Linked DNA regions of Homo sapiens: regions 1 and 2 are each linked to region 3. Evidence: fine-mapped expression QTL. A gene starts in region 3. Each other region holds a variant in brackets. All regions are shown on one strand. Distances are between the middles of the regions. Region 1 has its middle 75 kb from the start of NBDY. Region 2 overlaps FAAH2 (fatty acid amide hydrolase 2). Region 3 holds the start of FAAH2 (fatty acid amide hydrolase 2).

What was found.
Region 1: its variant is fine-mapped to the expression of FAAH2 in minor salivary gland (GTEx, PIP above 0.99).
Region 2: its variant is fine-mapped to the expression of FAAH2 in sun-exposed skin (GTEx, PIP above 0.99). The same link has a PIP of 0.9 or more in cerebellar hemisphere, nasal epithelium, pituitary and unexposed skin.

Annotation. Positions count from the first base shown.
Region 1 is chrX:56,653,292-56,655,967 of GRCh38, forward strand. No RefSeq gene overlaps it. Among named protein-coding and RNA genes, the nearest start is that of NBDY, 75 kb to the right of the region's middle. The variant T/G (reference allele first, on the strand shown) is at 1,474.
Region 2 is chrX:57,392,238-57,394,913 of GRCh38, forward strand. The region is part of intron 7 of FAAH2 (fatty acid amide hydrolase 2); the gene reads left to right. It also overlaps the pseudogene MTHFD1P1. Among named protein-coding and RNA genes, the nearest start is that of FAAH2, 110 kb to the left of the region's middle. The variant G/A (reference allele first, on the strand shown) is at 1,139.
Region 3 is chrX:57,285,320-57,287,995 of GRCh38, forward strand. It overlaps FAAH2 (fatty acid amide hydrolase 2), which reads left to right and starts at 1,387. Exons shown (of 11, transcript NM_174912.4): 1 at 1,387-1,698. The coding sequence starts at 1,507.

The DNA of each region.
Region 1 (2,676 bases), 630 kb before region 3:
TTTTGCTTATGAAGCTTAATTGGCTGCATATAAAATTCTGGGTTGGAAATTTCTTTTTTTAAGAATATTGAATATTGGCCCCTAATCTCTTCTGGCTTGTAGGGTTTCCTCTGAGAAGTTCACTGTTAGTCTGATGGGTTTCCCTTTGTAGGTGAGCTGGCCTTTCTCTCTGGTGCCCCTAACATTTTTTCTTTTATTATGACCTTGTATAATCTGATGATTATGTGTCTTGGTGTTGATCTACTCATGGAGTATGTTACTGGGGTTTTCAGCATTTCCTAAATTTGAATGTTGGCCTGTTTTCCTATGTTGATGAAGTTCTACTGGATGATTTCCCAAAGTATGTTTTTCAACTTGGTTCCATTCTCCCCATCTCTTTCAAGTACCCCAATTAGTCATAGGTTCATTCTCTTTACATAATCTCATGTTTCTCAGAGGTTTTGTTCATACATTTTCATTCTTTTTTATTGTTGTCTGCCTGTCTCATTTCAAAAAATAATCCTCAAGCTCTAACATTCTTTCCTTTGCATACTCATTTCTACTAGTGATACTTGAGATTGCATTGTGAAGTTCTTGTGCTTTTCATCTCCATCAGGTCATTTATGTTTCTCTCAAAATTGGCTATTCCATCTATCACCTCCTGTGTTATTTTATTATAATTCTTAGCTTATTTGCATTAGGTTACAACATGCTCCTTTAACTCAGAAAACTTTGTTATTATCTACTTTCTGAAGCCTACTTCTGTCAATTCTGCCATCTCAACCTCAGCCCAGTTCTGTGCCCTTGCTGCAGAGGTGTTGTGGTCACTTGGAGAAAAGGGAGCATTCTGACTTTTTGAGTTTTCAGCATTTTTATGTTGATTGTTTCTCATCTTTCTGGGCTTATCTACCTGCAAACTTTGAAGTTGCTGACCTTTGGATGAGGTTTTTGTGGGGTCTTTTTTATTTATATTGTTGTTGTTTATTTCTGTTTGTTTGTTTTCCTTTTCACAGTCAGGCCACTCTACCAGAGAACTGCTGTGGTTTTCTGGAGGTCCACTTCAGATTCTAGTTGCCTCAGTCCTTCCCATTCCAGGAGGGATCACCAGTGAAGTCTGCAAAACTGCAAAGATGACAGCCAGCTTCTTTATCTGGAATCTCCATCCCAGTGTGGTACTGACATTTTTTCTGGCCTGAATGCACCAGTATGAAGTGGCTGGAGACCCCTGTTCAGAAATCTTACCTAGTCAAGAGGAAATGGATCAGAGACTTGCCTAAATAAGTAGTCTGGCTGCTATGGTAGTCCAGTTGTGCTGTGTTGCGGGGTACCCTTTCTTGTCTTGACCATTTATGTTCTCCAAAGCTGGCCGACTGGAACAACTAAGTCAACTGAATTGCAAAAATGGCAGCTGCTCCTCTCCCTGTGAGCTCTTACCCAGGGAGAGATCAGAGCTCTGTACATAGAACCATGGCCAGAGTGGCTGAAGCCCCCACA[T/G]AGAGGTCCTGCTCAGTGAGCAGCAATGAACCAAGGTCCTGCTTAAGGAAGCAGTCTGGCCATAATCTGACAAGGAAGCTGTGCTACATTTTGAGTGACCCTTCCTCTTTTGGACCATTTGTATTCTCTAAAGCTGCAGGCTGGAAAATCTGAGTCTACCAAACCACAGTAATGGTTGCAGCCCCTCTCCCTGGGAACTTAAACCTGTCTCAGGCAGATTCTAGCCTGTTGCCTTTGGCTGGCTGGAATTCTAAATCAGAGGGTCTTAACTTGTGAGGTGCTGTAAAGTGGGGCCTGAAGAATGATGATTCTTGGCTCCCCAGAATCAGCCCACTTTCTATGGATATGGATGGATGGATTTTTCACTTTGCTAGTGATTCTGGGGCAAGAATATGTAAAATTCCTGGGTCCTTGTGTTTGCCTGAGTGGCTGCACTACTGAGACTTTACACAGCTCTGTGTATTGCACCCAAGGCCCTGGTAATGTGGGCTTGTGATGGTATCTCCTGATCTGTGGGTTGCTAAGATCCATGAGAGAAGCATAATTACCTGGGCTGGGTCACACAATCACTCACTGCTTCCCTTGGTTGGGCATGGGGGTTCCTTTGGCTCCATGGACCATTGCTCCCTCTGCTTTTCTTCATTATCTGTGGGTTGAGTTGTTTGCCTAGTCAGGCCCAATGCAAGAACCAGAATATATCAGTTGAAGGTGTTGAATTAACTTGCCTCTTTTTATTTCTCTCTGTGAGTACCCTAGACCATAGCTAATTGGCCATCTTGGATTCTCACTGTATTTTTAAATGGGGCATTTACATCAAGGCTTACTGTTTACATCAAGGTTAGTATTGATAAGTGTGGGTTTTATCCTGTCATTGTGTCATTAGCTGGTTTTCATGCTGACTTTTTGTGTATTTGCTTTACAGTGTCATTGGTCTATATATTTAAGTGTGCTTTTGTTTTAGCTGGTAGTGGTCTTTCCTTTCTGTATTCAGTGCTCTTTTCAAGATCAGTTTGTTCTGGTAGTAACAAGCATTCTCAACATTTGCTTATCTAAAAAGGATCTTTTGTTATTTTACTTTAAGTTCCAGGATACACGTATAGAAATTGCAGGTTTGTTACATAGGTGTACATGTGTCATGGTGGTTTGCTGCACCTATTAACCCACCATCTAGATTTTAAGCCCCACATGCATTAGGTATTTGTC
Region 2 (2,676 bases), 110 kb after region 3:
ATCAGCAAGCAGAGATAACATGACTACTTCTTTTTAAATTTGGATCCCTTTCCTCTGGCTAGAACTGCCAGTACTATGTTGAATAGGAGTGGTGAGAGTGGAGATCCTTGTCTTTTTTCAGTTCTTGTTTTTTTTGTTTGTTTGTTTTTTGTTTTTGGCAAAACTATTTCCTTTTATTCTGTGGAACGTCACTAACGTAAATAGACATGTGCATGATTTATGTTAATTTATACACGATGAGAATTAAGGCTGAAAATGACATCCGGGAAAACTCCTACTATTAGTTTCAGATCTTCTGGGCAGGGGCTGACTCTTGGCTGCCTTATACTTCCTAACTCCCAGTGGGCCTGAATAGACACTGGCCAGATTTTCAAAGTAGCTTCTTGAAGATGGATGATGATCTGTTTAGAATGATCCATTCACCTGTTCTGTTTCAGGGTCCAAATCAGTATCATAAAAACAGGGCTGGGTGGGGAGTCCATTGTGCTCATCGTTCCTACTAAAGGGTACAGAAAACCAGCCCCGATGCTGGCATGGATGTTGCGAATGGGCAGAATGAATCCTGTAGGGACACCTTTTCGCTCTGGGTTGTGAGACAAGGACAAGTGTGTTTTGGCCATGCAGATGGGGAGATTCCCAAAGCCCTGCTTTGTGTAGACTTCAGCTTTGTGTTGAGCTTTGAGGAGTAATTCAATGTTGTCTGCTCCATAGATCTTCTGTGCAATGATCCTGATTTTATCCTCAACTGGGAGCTTGAGGTCATAAAGGAGTTGGAAGCTGCTGGGTGCTTGTCCTGCTCTCTGGACAGCCTGAGCCAGGGCTAAGGTACCCTTGCCCCCTTCTGCCAGTGAGTGCACTTCACGGCATCAAAAGCCCTCTGTTCTCTGGAAAGGCAGCCGATGAGGTCCAGCTCAGTCTCTGTATCTGTCTTGAATGCATTCACGGCCACTACTACTGGAATTCCAAACATTCTGGCATTTTCAGTTTGTTTCTTCAAGTTACTGAAGCCTTTTTCAACCAGCTCCAGGTTCTCCTCTATGTAAGCCTTGGGAAGAGGCATTCCAGCAGTGACCATAGGGCCACCCCTGTGCATCTTTAGAGCGCTGACAGTGGCAACAAGCACCACCACGTGAGGGTG[G/A]AGACCGGAATACTGGGATTTGATGTTAAGAAACTTTTCTATTCCAATGTCTGCTCCAAATCCCGCCTCCGTCACTACAAACCCTTCTGGGCCAACAAGCTAGAGTGTGATCCGGTCTGCAATGATAGAGGAATTGCCGTGTGCGATGATGGCAAATGGGCCTGCATGGACAAACACTGGAGTGCCCTCCAATCTCTGCATGAGATTGGGCTTGATTGTGTCCTTCATAAGCACTATCAATGCACCACTCACCCCCAGATCTTCAGCACTGACGGGGTCTCCTTTCTTACTGGATGCCACCACCATTTTGCCCAGTCTCTCTCTCCTGTCTTCTAGAGAAGTGGTGAGAGCCAGGACAGCCATAATTTCACTGGCCACAGAGATATCAAAGTGGACCGTCTGTGTGTGACTTTTCTTCGTTGGAGCCTGTCCAATCGTGATCTTCCTCAGGAATCTATCATTGGTATTCAACACTCTTTGCCAAGCTATGGTTTCTGGATCAATGTCCAATCTTGCAAATCTGTTTATCTCTTCATCTGTCAGTGTGGTAGAGTCAGTCTTGTCAATGCCTAGTCTGTTTAACCTTTGTATGTGGATATCAGAGAACTTTCTCACTCCATTTACTGATGGCACCAAATGAGTAAAGGTAGCCTTGTCTGTCTGGGTCAGTTCATGAAATATCTGAGCATCAATAGCCGCAGCAACAAGGTTATTAGATACAGTGATGGCATGGATGTCACCTGTGAGGTGAAGATTAAACTCTTCCATAGGAATGACCTGGGAGTAGCCGCCTCCTGCAACACCACCTTTTATTCCAAAGGTGGGGCCCTGAGAAGGCTGTCGCACACACATAAAAAAGTTCTGGTAAAGATGGGCAAGAAGGGCTTGCACCAGCCCGATTGTAGTCGTGCTTTTCCCTTCTCCCAGGGGTGTTGGAGTTATTCCAGTCACCACCTGATATTTCCCAACAGGCTGGTGCTTCAGGCGTTCTAGTGCTGACAGCAGAACTTTGGCCTTTGTTTCACCATATAATTCTACCTCTTCAGACAGCAGACCAATTACTCAAGCCAGCTTACCAATGGGCTTCGGTTTACAAGATCGTGATATATCAATGTCACTTGGAACAGGTGTCTTGAGGTTAAGGTTGTTATACTGAATCATCCACTTTCCTGGCTTAAATTTCTCCAGGAAACGCTTGGCACTCTCTACAGTGCTCTGCATGAGCATTGCAACCGTCATGAGCCCTAAGCCACCAGGAACGGGCCTCGTCGTATGCCACATCACCCACAACTTTTCTCCCATTTGTTTTTTTTATCATCTGGGACATAATTGATTCCACAGTTGATGACTATTGCTAGGTTTGATCCATTCCCCTTTAACCATTTCAGGCCGACCAGTTGCAACCACCAGGATGTCGCCTTTATTTACCTCCTCATCCAGATTGGCAGTCTTGGAGTGGCAGGTGGTCACTGTGGCATTGTTCCACAGAAGCAAGTCACGCATCAGGGCCCTGACTATTTTACTGCACCCAACCACCA
Region 3 (2,676 bases):
CTTCAACGCTCATTATCTCATAATCACATACCTTCAGCCTACAAACCTGTATTGACTTCTCATCAAGCCCTATGTCAGGCTCTGGCAATACAAAGAGGAATTAGAATGACCCTGTTCTTCGAGGAGTTTATATCTAGATGGGGCATAGACACAAAAACCTAACACATAACAGAGGGTTGTAAGTGCTATGATTTTGTTAATCTGTGGAGTGCAGGGTTACAAAAGAGTGGCATCACACCCAGTTGTAAGTTCAGGGAAGACTTACTGGAGGAGGTGGTACTTGTCCTGAACTAGATGAAGAGGTTGGGAAAGCAGATGCAAAGATAAGGAGGGAAGAGAGAACTTTCGGATAGTTGTTTGTCAGGAGCTTAGCATGTGAGGGATAGAAGGGGTTAGGGATGAAGCATAGAGTTTTTCAGACACCAGTCATGAGAGTCGAATGCTGGACAAAGTAGATGGGTCTTGAATCTGTGGAAAATGGAGAATTATTGCGGAGTTATTGGCAGGGGTGTAATATTGTCAGATTTACATATTAGAAAGAACACTCTATAAATAAAGGCAGAGTGATCAGCTAGATTATTTGTAGAAGTTCATGTAAACCTCAGTGAGATCTGAGCCAGACTGAGTTGAGAAGGAAGGGCTGGATTCTGTCATGAGAATAAGAGAAATGGAAGAATCTGAAGTGATTCTAGATTTTTGGCATGGCTGACTGGGTGGATGAAAATTCCATTTGTAGACCTGTAGGGGCAGCAGTCTGGGGGACAAAAGGATGAGTTTTGGACTTGTTGAGTTTGAACGATCTGGAAGACATTCACATGGATATGTCAAAAAAGGCATTTCAAGTGTCCAGTTTAGGAGACAGATGGGCTGGAGATTTGATGTTCATCAGTACTACCTGTTAGTGATCTTATAAGGATTAAATAATATGCATATGGAAAATATATATATACTTGCCATTTAGTTGTTTGTTGAGCATACTGAATATTTGCATACAAAGGTATACTTACAACACTTTTTTCACAAGCACAGCTGAAATAAACTATAACAACTACCACTTATACTATTTACCATAAATTGTGCTAAATGTTTTTACTTATTATCTAGTGTTTATGGTAACCCTTTGATATAGGAGTAGTTATTCCCATTTTTTTTCTTATGAGTAAACTGACTAGGAGATATAGTGTAGGTTGGCCAGGGCTACACAGTAGCAGAACTGGGGAATTCCAAGGCCAGTGTTCTTTCTTATGACGCATTTTCTGTCTTGGGTTACAACAGCACTAACGACAGGTAGCATTGCACACAGGCAGCTGCTGGGAAGTCTCCGCCCCCATCTCTGGCTAGGAGCCCTGCAGGTGATGATAAACAAGCTCCTGTGGAATTGTGGGTAGACACTGGACTTGTAAACGAAAAGCTTCATAAGTCCCTCTTTGCTTAGTACTTTTCTCGTCCTTTCCCCAGGGTGCACGTAACCCTCAAGCACTAGGACCGTGCGGAATCCAGGCTGCGATGGCACCTTCATTTACCGCCCGCATTCAGTTGTTCCTCTTGCGGGCGCTAGGCTTTCTCATAGGCTTAGTAGGCCGAGCAGCTTTAGTCTTAGGGGGTCCAAAGTTTGCCTCAAAGACCCCTCGGCCGGTGACTGAACCATTGCTTCTGCTTTCGGGGATGCAGCTGGCCAAGCTGATCCGACAGAGAAAGGTGAGAATGCAATTCAGAAGAGGCTGGAGGGACAGGTCTTTTAGCAGGATCCAGGAAGCTTAGTGGTGGCGGTGGTTGTGGTTTCCTTTCCATTCTCTACTAGGGCGACTTAGGAGAGGCATTTATTGGGGATGAAGGGAGACTTCTGGGTGTTGTAGTACGTTTATTTTTACCAAGGACATTTACTGTGGGCATGGGTTGGACTATTTTGGTACCGTCATAGTCCTTCCTATCCATTTGTCCTATTTGTGCATAATTACTGTGTGTGGGGTAAAGCAGGTGTGAATTTCAAACTGATTCTCAGCTATGGAAAGTCAGTCTCTCTCTTTCTCTCTCCCTCTCCCTTTCTCTCTCTCTATTCTTCCGTCTCTCACAGGCCCCAGATCAACCTGCTGCTTACCATTCAACCAATTCTTTTTAAAATTGATTTAAAGTAAAAGTAGTACTTGGTCTAGGATAGTAAAAGCTGCGTCTACCATATATTTATTGCATAGTATATGTGAAATACTCTGCCTGGGTACTTAAACATATTCTATTTCACGGATGCAGTTATATAGGCAATATTCATATTTTATGCATAAGGAAACTGAAGTAAAATGATTTGCACAAAAATTGTTGAAAGTTCTAAATTAAAAAAATTAAGCAGCTCATTCGTTCTCTATAGAATTGTGCAGGCAGGACTATTCATCTCTGTCATATAAGTGATTGGTTACCTGGAGATCTTGAGCTACAGTCTAGTATTGTTTATTTATACTCTGCTTGTTTTCACCTCTCTGCTGTTTCATTTGTTTTTCGTCATTGCTTTATTTCCAGAATCTACAATACTACTTAACAAAGAATAGGCATGCAGCAAATACTATCTCAGTATGTGCTCCTGAATGTATGAATTATTAATATTTGTATTGTACTCCTGGTTACCTTTCAAAGACATATCCTGTCTTCTTGCCGTACCCCCTCCCCAGCCTCTACCCACTCATG